Regions from separate parts of the Homo sapiens genome. Here region 1 is linked to region 2. Evidence: fine-mapped expression QTL. Tissue or cell type: putamen. Region 2 holds a variant in brackets; the other region holds the start of a gene. All regions are shown on one strand. Distances are between the middles of the regions.

What was found. PIP is the estimated chance that this variant, and not a neighbour inherited with it, causes the effect.
Region 1: WIPF1 starts here. The variant in region 2 is fine-mapped to the expression of WIPF1 in putamen (GTEx, PIP 0.93).

The regions. Positions count from the first base shown.
Region 1 is chr2:174,593,324-174,601,661 of GRCh38, forward strand. It overlaps WIPF1 (WAS/WASL interacting protein family member 1), which reads right to left and starts at 4,481. Exons shown (of 8, transcript NM_001375834.1): 1 at 4,278-4,481. RefSeq lists an enhancer at 4,504-4,683.
Region 2 is chr2:174,571,751-174,580,088 of GRCh38, forward strand. WIPF1 (WAS/WASL interacting protein family member 1) reads right to left here. Exons shown (of 8, transcript NM_001375834.1): 4 at 3,454-3,630; 5 at 1-696. WIPF1-AS1 (WIPF1 and CHRNA1 antisense RNA 1) reads left to right here and starts at 3,477. Exons shown (of 2, transcript NR_199010.1): 1 at 3,477-3,679. RefSeq lists a silencer at 6,325-6,434. The variant G/A (reference allele first, on the strand shown) is at 3,838.

The DNA of each region.
Region 1 (8,338 bases), 22 kb after region 2:
AAAAGTGTTTTCCTGAGAAAAGGTTTTTAAATTCATATTGAGTTATTACAACCATAAAAAATAACTGCAAGGGCATTCATTACAAAGACAGTGAATCCACTCCAAGTCACCCTGCAAAAATAAAATCATCGAGCAAACTCAAATTGCTGCTAAGACGGTGAATTTTAAAAAGCATGTCGTTTTGGGATTCCTACTCAATTATTCTTGATTCTATTCTTTAGATACTCCTCCATGATGCAAACTTAGCTGGATGTATTTAAGATCTGAAAACCATTAGAACTAATTAAGATGAATTTGGCTTTGTTCTTCAACTTCCTGTAAAAAATGCTCAACAGGAAAATTGATGCTCGCAGTAAACCACAGTCATCCTGTTTCTTTAACACAATCTTTTCACAGCTGCAGTTGCCTGGAGTTTCTATTTTATGACGCGAGTCACTGCAACAGCTCTACCATCCCTTCCCCCCAGCATGTGGTCTGGCCATTTTAGAAACTTTCAATACCTTTGCAGAAAGGTTCGTTTCTATTATTGCTACTCTTCCTCTCTCCAAGCTGAAGGTCCTTGCTCAGAGCAATAAGCCATGGATACAAGAGGGGAAACAGAAAAGGCAGCTGGACTCCAGAGGAAGCAAAAGGCAGAGAAGAGGAAAACAGCTTTATTAGCAAATCAGCAGCCTCACCCAGTTGGTTCTTATGCATTGTTAGTCTCCATTTGAGCTGAATGTGGAGCACACGCTTGCCATACACAGAATCCCTCATTTCTCAAAATGTACTGCTCTTTTCTCAGTCAATCATCATTGAAAAACAATACTTCAGCAACGTCTGATTAGGTTGTCTTCTTAATGGTAAATGTCAATTTAAGTCTGCTGAACCTAGAAATGCTTCTTTTATAGTTCTTTTAGATAAGGAGGTGATTTATTTTGGCGGGGAGTAGGAAAGGTGTTTTTCAAAGAAGACATTTTGAAGCATCTCGAACATCACTAAGACTGGCTAGGAGCTTGGACACAATTTTACTGCAAGAGTACTGCTAGGGAAATAAAGGTTGCTATGAAGTAAAATTATTTTTTAATCCACTATTGTGCACATTTAATTTTAAAATTAATACAAATTCACAGACATCGAAGACCCTTTTAATAGTGAGAAAATGAAGGTGAGCTGAATGACACGCCTACCTGTCATTATTTAACTGAAGGAAAGGGAAAGGAAACATTTTTATTTTATCCATATAATTAAAGAGTAGCAGGTTTTCTCCCATACTTCCCATCTCTTTAAGGGGTTCAAATCTCCAAGCTAAAATCTGCCTAAATCGCTATCACCACATTTAGTTCTACCAGAGGATTAAGATGTGCCACTGTTTCTCTCTCTCTCTTTCTCTCTCTCTCTCTCTCACACACACATACACACACAGCATATATGTCAGCACACTTGATATATACTGTATTCATTTTATCATTGAAAGTACAGCTTTATGATATAAGCAGAAGTGTCACCAAGTTTACCTCTGAAGAAGTGAAAAGACTTAAAAAGGAAAATATCTTACTTGAGATTGTTAGTTTTAAAGATATTTACTGTTGCTGTGACATTTAAAGCAAAACATTTGTAATCTCAGATTCCCAAGGCCGGAAAAGCACCTCAAGAAATCATACTGGCTGGGTGTCGTAGCTCATGACTATAATCCCAGCACTCTGGGAGGCCAGGGTGGGAAGATAGCTTGAGCCCAAGAGTTTGAGACCATCCTGGGCAAACATAGTGGGACCCTCATCTCTACAAAAAAAAAAAAAAAAAAAAAATATATATATATATATATATATATATATATAATTAACTGGGCATGGTGGCACACATCTGTAGTTCCAGCTACTTGGGAGGCTGAGGTGGGAGGACTGCTTGAGTCCAGGAGTTTGAGGGTGCAGTGAGCTGTGATCATGCCATTGCACTCCAGTGTGGATGACAGAGCAAAACCCTGTCTCAAAAAAAAAAAAAAAAAAAACAGAAAAGAAAAAGAAAAACAGAAATCATACAATTTATAATGTTGCTTCCAAGCTGCACTTGTGAAAAAAAGCTCTTACAATTCAGATAACTTCCTCCACATTTAGTTGTTAGGTGGCCTTGGGTAAATTACTTAGCTTATGTAAGTCCGGTTTTCAAAATAATAGCACCTACTTAGTAGGGTTATTCAAGAGTTAAATGAAGGAGTGCTTAATAAGTATTAGCCATTTTCAAAAAATAAAATAAGCAAAGGTGAAGAACGTAACACAAAATAAGTGGTCAGTAAATATCACAGTCTTTCCCCCTATTTAACCACGAGAAAGAGAAACCATGAGCTGATTTAAATCAGCCTATGTGTGTACACCCATGCAAACTTCCATATTACAAGTGAATGGTGAAGGGAGATGTGTATAAAGTGCATTTCAAATTTCTCAGAAAAGCATACTGATTAAGGCATTCCTTATTCTAGTATTTTTTTACAGTTTTAATTTTCAGGACAGACAGAGGTATTTATGGAAGTCCAGGAGAAATGCTTTCTTCAACAACAAGCACATGTTTAACAATTTGGACAAAATGAGTCAAACCTTAAAGCAGAAATATATCATAATTTAAACAGCCAGAAACTTCCAAAGTAAATGATGTGTGTTCATAAAATGTTAAGAAGGCTTCAAAAGGTCATAACACTTAAAGGGTCCAGGAATTCAGTATCACTTCATCTCATATTTTAGGTAGGCTGGGGAACTTCCAGCCTACAGGCCAGATTTAGAATTTGATCAGATCTGAAGTTGCTGCTCGATCCCAGGAACTAATTTTCACCACAGGGAGTTCTCTGAATATTTCAGTCCACCCAGAGTATGTGTAACCCTTAAAAGGTTAGATATTAGAGTAGCTGAAGCGCTATGAGCAAATAGCCCATGAATAAACTTTTCAAAGAGCAATAGAAAACCTGACTTAGTGAAAAATGACTTTCAGGTAAGTCATTTAATGACCTTAGACTGATAAAAGGAAGAGTTTTGACATGATGATATTCCAGTACAGAAGAACAAAGCTTGATAAAGTTAACACATAGCACTGTAGTCCAAGTGAATTGTAAGAGTATGATTTCCACACAGATCAACCTCAAAACCTTTTCCCAGTTTCTCATCTTCCTTTCTCACTGTCCTGTCCTATTCTTTCCCCAGTCTTTCATCTTTCTCTCTACCAAGCTGTCTTACTTTGCTTAGTTAGAATCTTTCAGTAGCCTTTTCATTTACCACCTCTCCATTCTCTACTACATATACTAGTTATGCCATTAAATTATTTAAAATAACTTGTATGCCTGTAATCCCAGCACTTTGGGAGGCCGAGGCGGGCAGATCACTTGAGGTCAGGAGTTTGAGACCAGCCTGACCAACATGATGAAACCCTGTCTCTACTAAAAATACAAAAACAAAAAAAACAAAAAACTTGTACTTAGTGACTAAAGTTATATGTGCCTTCTGAGTTTTTTAAAGCTTTATTTTATATTTCTTCACGGGGAGAAAGGAACATAAGTCAAATTGTTTCTTCCTACATATTCTAGAAAAAAGTTTTTTAATGTAAAAAGTTTCCTTAGTTCTGCTCTATAAGCCTCTGAGTAGATGGCTTGAAATTTTAAAAATCACAATATTTTATGCCAAAACATTAATCATATTAAACATAAAGTTATAACTAATGCTGTAGAATTTGATTTGCGATAGTAATTGTGCACACACTGTTATAACAGGAATAGACTTATTCTAAAAGACAAATCGTATTATAAAAGACTCTGCTTAGAAATGGTTTAGTTTGAGTTTTGAACTTAAATAGCACATTGGCAGCAACAGAACTGCAACAGCTTAGTTCCATGGTATTTTCGTTTGAAGCTTCCAATGGCTCCTTGTACTTTAAAGCACTTATTGTTGCTGGCCACACCAAAGATTCAAAGGCAGTTGTGTGGACAACTGTATCATACACCAAAAGGATATATTTACCGACATAAGCCCCCAATTTAAATGGGAAAATAAATTCCTGTGGATCCAAACTTGTCCAGTGGTCAAAAAAATTCTATTGAAAATCTTGCTTACATTTTGGCTCAAAGCATAAGTTATGAATCATTCACAATCACCATAGTGGTGAAACTAGCATTCTGGGCAACAGGAATAGCTCACATGGTGCTCTACAGAAAAATTAAACAACTTTATCTTGACATACTATGGTCCATTAAAAGCCATTTAGTTCTTCCCTGTAGCTGATAAATGAAATAAACTTAGTTTGAATATAATTTTTCTTACCGTTAAAGGGTACTGCAGGGAGCCATGGTCAGGGACACAGGCAGACAGAGGGCCAGCGGGACAGGAGCCAAGAGAGAAAACTGTCCCTGAAAAAGGTATCATCTTCTAACGCAAGTGTGGGGTCGTTTTTGGACAGCCATTTTGGACAAGCTCTGGCCTCTTGTTAAATGTGACATACTGAGTCAGAGGCAGACGTCCTTCTGTGGTTATTCGCTTCCTGTCTGATTAATTTGTTGTTTGTTGTTCCTTCCTCCTTTGCTGCAGAAAAAGAAACTAGATTGGTTTTGCTTAAGAAGCAAGCAAGAAAAAAAACCTAAATTAAAAAAAATTAAATGTTTCTCCTCCCCACAAGGTGTAATACACAGCTATTTGGTACAGTGACAAGAGGAGATGAGCACCTCCACTCAGTGAAGAGTCCAACTTTATTCTAGATATTCCCACAAAAATAACTGTTCATGGAACTTGAGATTCCTTTAGGAAAATTATATTTGAAAGTATCACTGTAAATACTGACTATTCCATTGAGTAATAGGGAAAAGAGTCACTCAAGAAAGAAAAGCTCTTACCTACCTTACCTTATCGCTTCATTAGGCTAAGGGCTTCTTCTCATTTACAGGGCATTCAAGTGTGTGGGGAGAAAGTTACAAATGCAGGTAAAGAGAGCAGGTCAGGTGTATGAAGGCAAATGAGGTTCTTTTTTTGGTTTTGTTTTATTTATTTCTTTTTTTTTAGAGAGACAGTCTTGCTGTCACTTAGGCTGGAGTGCAGTGGCGTAATCATAGCTCCCTGTGGCCCTGACCTCCTGGGTTCGAGCAATCCTCCAGCCTCAGCCTCCTGAGTAGCTGAGACTACAGGCATATGCCACTGCACCTGGCTAATTTATTTTATTTTTATATTTGGTAGAGATGGGATCTTGCTTTGTTGCCCAGCCTGGTCTTGCACTCCTAGCTTCAAAGTGATCCTTCCATCTTAGCTTCCCAGATTGCTGGGATTACAGGCTTGAGCTACCATACTTGGCAGCAAATGAGTTTTGAAACGTGATTTTGGTGCCCAAGTCAGGGTAATAATATACAGCTTAAGTCAGCTGCAGATCCATAGCTTTCTATGCCAAATGTTTCTGTCCCCCACACTTAATGGGATAACAGTAACTCTCCTAGAAGATGCTTGACAAAAGCATAGAGATAAAGAGGGTGGAAGGAAGAAAGTCAGATTTCTCATTATTAAAGAACTCAAGAGGTGGATGGCAATGGAATACATGTAGAAAACATTTTATCAAAACCTTGAGTTATGTATAGAACGATCTGAAAATGCTCATAATTTTTTCTTAACCCATCTTAAAGGTTCAGACTTACATATGCAACACATAGTATATAACTCTGAGAAAACAGTAACAGTCAAAGAATTTAAAAGAGAGGCATATTTCAGAAACTAGCTTCATTGTAAAATCTGAATGTTGGGTCCTGATTCTGCTAGGATCAGAGGCCAGAGGCATGAAAAGAACGTATGTTGTCTAACATTGCCTTACCTGTAAAGTGATGGAACTGGGCTAGATGAGTAATTTTCAACTCAGGTAGCTGTTGGGGGTGGTGAGCAGTGAGTGGGAATGGTGGGGGCAGGGGCCTGTAGCATTCAGTGGGTGGGGCCAGGAATGGGAAATTTCCTATGGTGCTTATGACAGTCCCACCCAAAATACCAGAAGTGCTCCTACTGGGGAGTACTGGGACAGATGATGTCTAAGGATCTTTTAAACTCAAAATTCCCTGAGATAGGAGTCTAATTGCATGAGCAGATTCATGATGCCAGGCCATGGGCACAGTTCCTGGAGTGGAGTACCCAAGAATAAGTGACTGAGAGTCCTCTGCTTTGCCTGGAGCCCCTTGAAGGCAGGGACCGCCTCTTGTCTAACTCTGGCCTGGTGTCCACCCGTGACTTAGGTCACAAATAAATACCTGCAGGCATGGGGCTGGACAGAGGTGGAGGCCTACAGCTATCAGCCACTTCCCGCGATACAAACCCTCAGGAAAACAGAAAACTTGATCAACTATTAAGTAAATGCCTGAGTGAATCTTTGGGGAAGTCTAATTATAGTTGGGTCTAAAAAGAGAACATGGGCGATATGACAATTTCTCTACGTATTTTCAGAATTATTTTGAAGTTCTCTAAGTAAGACACCCCAAACACACACACACACACTCTCTCTCTCTCTCTCTCTAGCTATCTCTCTCTCTCTCTCTCTCTCTCAGTACACATACCATTCATGGCTATTTCCATCCCTTAGGGGAGTGGTCCCTAACCTTTTTGGCACCAGGGACTGGTTTTGTGGAAGATAATTTTTCCACGGAGTGGGGGCAGGGGGTGGGGATGGTTTCAGGATGAAACTGCTCCAACTCAGATCATCAGGCATTAGATTCTCATAAGGAGCTCGCATGCACAGTTCACTTTAGGATTCTTGCTCCTCTGAGAATCTAATGCGCAGCTGATCTGATAGGAGGCAGAGCTCAGGAGGGAACACTTGCTCACCAGCTGCTCACTTCCTGCTGTGTGGCCTGGTTCCTAAGGGGCCATAGACTGGTTGGAGACCCCTACCTTAGGAAAAGCTCACTTAGAAGGGAGTATGTCACCTAGAAGGCTGCAGTCCCCAAGACATGCAAGGGAGTAGTTGTGTAGTTTGAGTCTATTCCTACAGTCAACTTTGGACACATTTATCAGGTGTCTACTATGCATGTTAGGACATAAATTAGATAATGTTCCTCCCCTGCTTAAAACCCTCCAATGACTTCTCATTTCACTTAAAAAGTCCAAACTCTTAGGTCCACAGGGACCCACGAGATCTGGCCCCTCCTTAACTCTCTGCCTTCATCTCAAGTAATATTCTGCCTTGCTAATTTACCTTCCAAATCTTTCTGTTCCTTAAATGCACCAAGCTCATTTGCATCTTCAGGCCTTTTACTTGCAAGCCTGGTACTCACGCCTGGTACACTCATCTTTTTGTTCCTTTTTATTCTTCAAATGTCAGCAAAAATGCTCTCCCTCATGACCCATTTCTGCTGTTTTCTTTTATGCATAGCATGCGTCACCGCTTGACACTGTCTTATTTATCTGTTTATTTACTTGTATGTTTCTCTCCACTAGAATTCAAGCTCTATGAGAGCAGGGACCTTGTCCATCTTGTTTCTGCTGTTGCTTCAGCATCTAATGCAGGTGTTTGACTGCTGTTGCTTCAGCATCTAATGCAGGTGTTTGAAAATAGTGTTTGTTGAATGGAAAAGAAAATCAATGTTTCTTACGAATTCTACTACAGCATAATGTTCCTTTTTTTTTTTTTTTTTTTTTTTTTTTTTTGAGACAGAGTCGTACTCTGTCACCCAGGCTGGAGTGCAGTGGCATGACCTTGGTTCATTGCAATCTTCACTTCCCAGGTTCAAGCGATTCTCATGTCTTGGCCTCCCTAGCTGGGACTACAGTCGTGCACCACCACGCCTGGCTAATTTTTTTTTTGTATTTTTAGTAGAGACGGGGTTTCGCCATGTTGGCCAGGCTGGTCTCCAACTCCTGGCCTCAAGTGATCTGTCCACCTCAGCCTCCCAAAGTGCTGGGATTATAGGTGTGAACCACCACGCTGCCCAGCATAATGTTCCTTTAAAAGCTTAAGACTGTTCCCCCTGAAATGGTAAATAACAAATGCCAAGACTAGACTTAAGCCTTCTTGGGAGAAGCTGTTAAAGGGAAATTTTCCAGAGAAAAGGTCAGCAGGTAAAACCCTTGGCCCATCAGTGGGCCTGGCAGTGCAGGCAGAGTCTTATGCAGTGCAGGTGGCTTACACCATTGGGCAATGTGAAGAGAAAAATGGATTAAGAAAATTGAAAACAAATAGAACAATCAGAAAGGAAGGGGGGGAAATAAAAAGATAAAGAAAATAAGGCAAGAAAAGCTGGAGATGGGGAGAGATCATGTGGTGGGTAGAGGAGAGCTACAACCACACTGCTGACCTCAGAGGCTTTGGAAGCCACCTCTGCAGTGGATGACCCACAGGTGCTGGATGTAACAGTGCTGTCTGGCCT
Region 2 (8,338 bases):
CTGGCGAAGGTAACGGGGGCGTGGACGAACTGAGGGACAGATTCCGCTGTGGGAGTCTTGGGGTTTCGTCATTGCCGCTGGAACTTGGAGGCAGAGGAGGCGGCCCGGGCCTGCTGGGAGGTGGCGGCGGAGGTGGGGCCTGTGAGGAGGCCGAAGGCCGCGGAGTGGAAGGCACTGGAGGCTTGTTGTTCTGAGGAGGAGGAGGGGGAACCGCTTCCCTGTGGATGGAGGGCCTGTTGCCCACTGGAGGAGGTGGTGGAGGGGGTTTGTCATCCAAGGCCCTGCTGGGGGTAGGCGGCAGGGGAGGCCGGTTGGAGAAGGGCGAGGAGGAGCTCAAGGGGGACTGACGTATTGAGCCTCCTCCCAAAGCAGTGCCGCGGTTTCCAGGGAAAGGGGGAGGAGTGGGCCCGGGGCTGGGCTGCCTGGGGCCTCCGGGCACTGGTGGGGACCCCCGGTTGTGCGGACTTGATTGAATGGGTCTTGGAGTACTAGGTACTGGAGGAGGAATGCTATCAGGCTTTGAGCCCACGTCGGGCCTTGGGGGCGGCATTCGGTTCCTCTGAGGCTCTGGGGGACCACTTCTGTGGCCTGGAGAAGGCACAGGAAACCTCCCTGGGCCACTTGGGGGTGAAAAGGGTTTCGCAGATGTGGATCTTCCTCCCGGTGGCAACAATGGTGGTCGGCTTCCTCCAGAATCTGAAGAACAGGAAAACAAACATCAGTTAGGAAATCAGGAACCCTGAAGAAATCAGAGAGCTAGAGTCTGTTCCCAGTGACTGGAAGTCCCTTCCTCAGAGGGCTATAAAATACAGGAAACTATTATTTATATAAATTGGGTTTTGTTGGTCCTTCTTGGGAGCAGAAAATCGACCATAGCTCTATTTACCTGCGAGTCCCAACTTCTACAGCCTATGAGCTTTCAAAAGGATTCTGCAAATATCTCTTAGCATTATGTATAGGCAAGAGCCAGGATGAAGTGGGCGAGAGTTCTGGTGAGATGCCTATTCATTATGAGAGGACAAGAACAAGATGGCATTGGTAGAATCATGATTTTCATTTTTCCTCATCACCATCTCTGTCTCCCAGCCCTTGTACCTCTCAGTTTTGAAACTAAGTCAGCTGTCTTAGGTGAAAAAATTAATTATCCCAATGTAAATCTCCAAATGTGAGGGCTTATCTAGTCCCTATGAAGAGAAATGCCCCAAAAAAAGTGGAAAACTGTAAGGGGAAATTATAAGAAAAGAGTTATGACTGCAATAAGAAAAAACTAAGAAAGGAAAAAGAACCATCAGTAAAGTTTAATTGTAAGAGTTGACACCAGTGGATGGAATTCATCTACAAAGAAGCAGGCAACTACACAACTTTTTTTTGGTACCACGTCAACCTCTGCTTCAGTATTGGCAGGACAGAATAATCCCATAACTGCTCTGGTTCAACAAGGGAGAAACTAAAGGGGGAACCAAAGAGATGGAAAATTTCAAACCACCATCCCAGAATCTCTTGGAACTCAAGGTAATTCTGAAAAAAAAAAAAAAAATCTACCCATTTATGAGTTAATAAGTGTACCAAATAATTTTGAGCACTTGCTATGCGCCTGCCATTAATCTAGAGACTAGAGACAGAGGAGTAAACAGAATAGAAAAGATTCTGCATTCCTGTAGTTTACATTCTTGTGGGGGGAGATAAACAATAAACCAGGAAATAAATACTTTCAGATAATTATATGTACTAAAAAGACACTAAAATAGGCCGATGAGATCAAGAGTGCTTGGAGAGGCCAGGGTACATGGAGTGGCTGGGGACAGCTCTTCTGAGAATGTGACATGTGAGCTGAGGCCTGACAAGAAGGAGTCAGCCACGGAAAGATGAGGAAGACCAGCACTTTGGGCAGGGTTGGCCAGCAGGTGCAGAGGCCCTGAGGTGGGAAAGAGCTTCAAGTTCAAAAACGGGCCCATGTGCCCGGGGCACAGTGAGAATGGGAGAGATCCATGGGAAGTGGAGCCTGAGTGGCCAGCAGGGGTTAGTCACAAGGAGCCCTGCAGGACAGAAGGGGTTCCGATTTTATCTAAGGCACAGGAAGAAGCATTTGGACAGATGTATACAGTGGAGTATCATGAACTTAAGAGAGAACTTTCTTCTTCTTTTTTTTTTTTTTTTTGAGACAGTGCCTCCTCTGTTGCCCAGGCTGGAGTGCAGTGGTGCAATCACGGCTCATTGCAGCTTCAACTTCCTGGGCTCAGGCAATCCTCCCACCTCCGCCTCCTGGGTAGCTGCGACTACAGGCAAGAGCCACCATGCCCACTAACTTTTTGTTTTTTTTTAGTAGAGACAGGATTTTGCCATGTTGCCCAGGCTGTTCTTGAATTTTTGGGCTTCAGCCATCTGCCTGCCTTGACCTGTGAAAGTGCTGGAATTATAGGTGTGAGCCACCATGCCTGGCCCATTTTATTATTTTATTTTTCTTTGTCTTTTGCCTTAATTTCTTCACCTGTTGTTAAAGTACTAAATGTATACATTTATCAGCTGCCTTAAATCCTTTTGGTGAGTTTTAAATAAATTTAAATTCAAATTTAAATGGTGGTCTGGCAAGATAGAACCTCTCATGTGACTGAGTTTCTCTCTAGATTTGGACCATTCAGTGATAAAATAGTAGGCTAACCCTGAGGATTCAGTGATTCCATATTCATGTAAATGTGAGAGTTTCATTCTTTCCCAGGGGACATCTTATAAAAGGTCTAAAAATGAAAATTATTATAACATGATCAACATTACAAAAGCAGTTTTATGGTAAAATTTCTTGAGTTTCTGTAGTAGCTGGGAGAGAGCCTCATGCCCTCTGCAAAGTTTTTTATCTAGGCATTCATGAGCAAGTTCAGTTTTTTTCTACCATCAGGTTCATAGACAATCCTGAAGGACTCATGTCCATGGCTCCCTGCAGAGACTCCTGAGAACCACTGGCACTGAAATACCAAATATCTGTCATGCAAAACACTTTTTCAGATTTAGTGAGATTTGTAATCATATTCCACAAGATGTGCTCCATCGTGTTTGAAAAGCGGCTCACAAGTATTTACTCTACTAGACAGCTGGGCTACCTCACAAAGAAAGCTGAATCTGTCAGGTCACCAGGCAGATTTCCAGGGCCAGCAAGTTCTATTTGCTCCTCCCTTTTCTTCCCACTCCAGCTAACCCTTTAGAAAAGTAAAAAAAAAAAAATGTACAGGTTACCCCCAAAGACACTGGGTGAAAATTTCATAGTTCTGTGTAGCTGTCTGATCCTGGTTAATAATAATAATAAAGCCTAAATTGAGTCTCTTATAAAACAGTGGTAATATTTAAAACAATGTACAATATTTTAATAAGGGCGAAGAGCCTTAGAGGCTATGACCAGCCTCCAAACTGCCAAACTCTGCCTTGTCTTCAGTCACTCAGAGACAGGGAAACTCTCCTTACCATTATCCCTGTTGGCCGTGGATCTCAGCTTCGGCATTCCAGCCTGGAACAATCCTCCCAGACCTGGAGGTCCGCCCCCTCCAAAACTTCCACCGCCTCCGCCACCACCTCCTCCGCCAAATCCGCCGCCTCCACCAAAGCCACCACCACCGCCTCCAGCACCAGCTCCTTTAGGTTCTGTAGAAGAAGAGACACCCGACAGACTATGCCCCCTGGTCTGGCCCAGGTAAACCATAAAACAACAGTACAACAGGGAGCTGGCCGGCTCTCGGCCTCCAGTGGACAACTGGGATTTCTTCATTAAAATGCAGGATTTTAAGAGTTCCCTCAGCTCAGTCAGAACTGCCCGCTCCAGGCAGTCCCAAGCCCAGTGGTGGAAGAAAC[G/A]AAAATAAAGGATGATTTGTCCCCACACTCCCCACTTGACTGGCTGCCACATGGGTCAGTATCTGTTTGTTCCGTATCCTAAGATTTGGCAAATAGAAGGATCTTCAGGCTGGGTGCAGTGGCTCACACATGTAATCTCAGCACTTTGGGAGGCTGAGGTGGGAGGATCGCTTGAGCCAGGGAGGTCAAGACTGCAGGGAGCCAAGACTGTGCCACTGCACTCCAGCCTGGGTGACAGTGAGACCCTGTCTCAGTAAAAAGGATCTTCAAAGAAAGAGGGTCGCAAGGGAGGAGGAGATGCCATAAAAGGCGAGAAGAAAGGAAAGAGTTAAAAAGAAAAGAAAATAAAATATCTCATAATTTCACAAATATACAAATATCCAGGCTAGGCACAGTGGCTCACACCTATAATACCAGCACTTTGGGAGGCTGAGACTGGAGGATAGCTTAGGCCCCAGAAGTTTGAGACCACCCTGGGCAACAAAGTGAGACCTCGTCTCTACGAAAATAAACAACAACAACAAAATGTAGCCAGGCATGGTGGTGCACACCTGTAGTCCCAGCTACTTAAGAGGCTGAGTGAGAGGATCACTTGAACCCACTGAGGCTGCAGTGAGCTATGATTGCACCACTGCACTCCAGCAAAAAAAAAAAAAAAAAAACACTAAGCAAATATCCACAATTGAGTTATACTTTTTCCCATCAGTATTTTTCATTTTATGTGTTTTTTCTTAAAATTAAGAACAAATTCACTAAGCAGTATTAAGCCTGCTTTTTTCATTTAACACTTTGTTAGCACTTCTTGTGTCATACTCTTTGAAAACATGAGTTTAAAGGATTCTATTGTATTGTAGAACATGAATGTATTACATTAAAATTTATTTAACTACTCATTTGATGGCCCTTTAGATTGCTATTAATTTTTTAATATCATGAAGCCCAATAGTAGGCTTTAGTAATTTAAACATTCTTTGCAATTTGAGAGGGTATAAAGATCTTGTTTTATTTTGAATTTATCTGCAAAAAATTGTGAAAGATTTTGATGGGAGGCAAACAAACAAACAAACAAAAAGATTACTGAGTATTCTGTCTAGTCTTCTGGGTTACTTTCCATTGTCTTTGAGCCACAGTATCTTATCACTCTGAAAGGCATAGAAAACTGATACTAATGCAATGGTATTTGTCCAAAGAAGTGCAAATTAGTTGTGTTTAAGCCATGCTTATACCCTCTTTAAAAAAATTATCTCTTAATTTATGTATGTATGCATGTTTGTATTTATGAGCTTAAACATTATTTAAAGTCCTCTTCCCAAAAAACTATGTTGAGTTTTTGATAAATAGTATATGAAATCTACAAATTAATCTGGGAGAACTGATACTTTTATGATATTTAGACTTTCCATTTGGAGATGTGGTATATTTTCCCATTTATTTATGTCTTCTGGATTTTTTGGCAAAGTTTTTTAGTTTTTATGATATACATTACACATGCTTTTTGTTAGGGTTACTTCAAATGTATTTTTGTTTGCTGAAATTGTGAAAGGGATGTTTTTCCTGTTATATTTTGTAATTGGTTATTTTTGGCACCAGGAAATTGTATTTAATATCTAATAAGCCACTTTGCTATGTTTTCTAAATAAAATTTACTAAAAATGTATTATCTTGCATTTTCTAGTATGCACATGGTCTTCAAATAATGACAGTTTAAAGCCTCCTCTTCTCTAAGAGTTGTATGTCTTATTTCTGTTTTATATAAGTAATTACTTTGATGGGTAAATTTCCATAACAATGTAAATTATTAACGTTTCTAAAGGCAATCATGTTCTGATATTAATGAGAATCCCTCTGATATTTCAAAGTTAATATGAATTATTGGTTTGAAATAGGTTTTTTCCCTTTCTAAATATTCAGTCTGTGGATCCTTCTATTTTAGGTTTACAAGAATTTATTATAGCATGAAATTTTATCAAATGCCTATTCAAGATCTACTGAGGCTTTTTGATGGTCTTTTTTATTTGATATGATGGATAGACTTTCTAACATTAAAAATGGGATAGGCCAGGTGCAACGGCTCACACCTGTAATCCCAACACTTTGGGAGGCCAAGGCGGGTGGATTGCTTGAGCTCAGGAGTTCAGGACCAGTCTGAGCAATATGGTGAGATTCCCATCTCTACAAAAAATGAGCCAAATGTGGTGGTGCATGCCTGTAGTCCCAGCTAGTTGGGAGGCTGAGGTGGGAGGATCCCTTGAGCTTGGGAGGTCAAGGATGCAGTGAGCTGTGTTCATACCATTACTCCAGCCTGGGTGACAAGACAAGACCCTGTCTCCAAAAAAAAAAAAGGGGGATAAACCCTGGTGTTGGTGAATTATTCTTGTAACATCTGATTGATTTAGATTTGTTTTTTGGTATTTTAGTGTTCTCTTATCTATGATGATAAGTGGTCCATAATAGGGTTTCTTAATTATAAACATTTTGGGACAGATAATTCTTTTTTGTGGGTGGCTGTCCTGTCCTGTTCTTTACAGAATGTTTACAGCATCCCTGGCCTCTACCCACTAGATGTCAGTAGCAGCCCTCCCTGTCCCCCAAAGTAGTGACTAAAAATGTCTTCAGACATTGCCACATATCCCCTGGAATGCAAAAATCACCCTCAGTTGAAAACCACTAATGTACAGCTTTCTTTTTTTATGTGCTGCCTTTGTCAAGTTTTGACATTAGGATCATGCCAATTTCATTACAATTATTAGACAGCCTTCCATCTCTTAATATATTGGGGAATGACTTATACAGCATTTGAATTAGCTGTTTCTTAAAATTTGAAAGAATTTGCTAATAAAATAATCTGGCTCCAAAACTTTTTGGAGAGAAAGTAATTTAATAAAGTTTTTATCTTTTCCCTTGCTCATTGAGGTTTCCTGAATAAATATATGCTTTTCTTAGAAAAGTACTTTCTTTAATATCTTAAAACATTTTAGCAGATAACTTTATTACACTACTTTAATTTTAGAAAATATGCTTTGAATCTCTTATTTTATCTGCTTTCTGAGTTCCACTTTTATTCATTTTTATTTCCATTTTCTGGATTAGGTTTATCATAAATTTGTGTTAGTTCTGTATCTTTTCTAGATGTGGAGCTTTCTGAGATGCTTATGGTAGCTCTGCTGTGGAAGAAATAATCTGATAATAACTGACAAGAATTACTTCACCTAACAGGATAAATCATATAAGACTAACAATTTCTAGAAGTGTATGCAAAATTGTTTCCATATAAAATTTAAAAATTTTGCTATTAACATCGCCCTTGTCATTCAAACACTATTCATTGATGAATGACACATTTTGGAATACTGCACTTCACAGGACACGTTTACATGGTACTGAAACTTTAGAGGGACTCCTGCACTATCAGACATCACCCATTACTGTTCTTTTTTTTGTTTTTTTGAGATGGAGTTTCACGCTTGTTGCCCAGGCTGGAGTACAATGGCACGATCTTGGCTCACTGCAACCTCTGCCTCCTGGGTTCAAGCGATTCTCCTGCCTCAGCCTTCCAAATAGCTGGGATTACAGGCATGCGCCACCACACCCGGCTAATTTTGTATTTTTAATAGAGATGGGGTTTCTCCATGCCTCAGGTGATCCCAGCCTCAGGTGATCGACTTGCCTCAGCCTCCCAAAGTGCTGGGATTACAGGTGTGAGCCACTGTGCCTGGCCCATTAGTGTTCTTAACCTGCAACATCTGTCCATCTTTCAGAAAGAGAAGCTAAAGCTGAGGATTAAGCTTTCAGATTATTTTTTCAGTAATTAAACTGTAGGACAGGGCTGAGTTATCACACATAACCATGGTCAACATTTTGACATACAGCCCAGGGAAGTTTCACATGCAAACAGATACAAAACTGTGGATAAACACTGCTGCTTGCAAAGAGCTTGTGACAGCAGTATAGGTGTCCAGTTGAGTGTGTGGACAAGGGCCTGCACTGGACTGTATCTTCCTTCCATCAAGGAAAGCACATTATTAAACATCATGGAAGAGAGAAGGACTAACACTATTTCCATTAAATAAGAGAAGTGGACATTGAAGAATACAATTCTTCAAGGTTTCCACTAGTGGATTCAGGAATAGGTCTAGACTGTCCAGCCTCCTTCAACAGAGCCCTAGGCTCCCTCTTGCAGTGAGGAGAACCACAGGCCTCTGTCCTAGAGGTCAGCTCCTCTGGCCTCATACCAGGGACCATGATTCAGATGGCTATTGGAGGGCTTGGAGGGCTGAGGGATTAGAGGGAATATATTATAACCACATTCGTTTTGTGGGCATTTTGACTTACAAGTCAGACTGTGTCAAGAGTTAAATACCTTAGTTCCTTTTTTTTTTTTGAGACAGAGTCTTGCTCTGTTGCCCAGGCTGGAGTGCAGTGGCACAATCTCAGCTCACCGTAACTTCCACCTCCTTGGTTCAAGTGATTCTTGTGCCTCAGCCTCCCGAGTAGCTGGGAC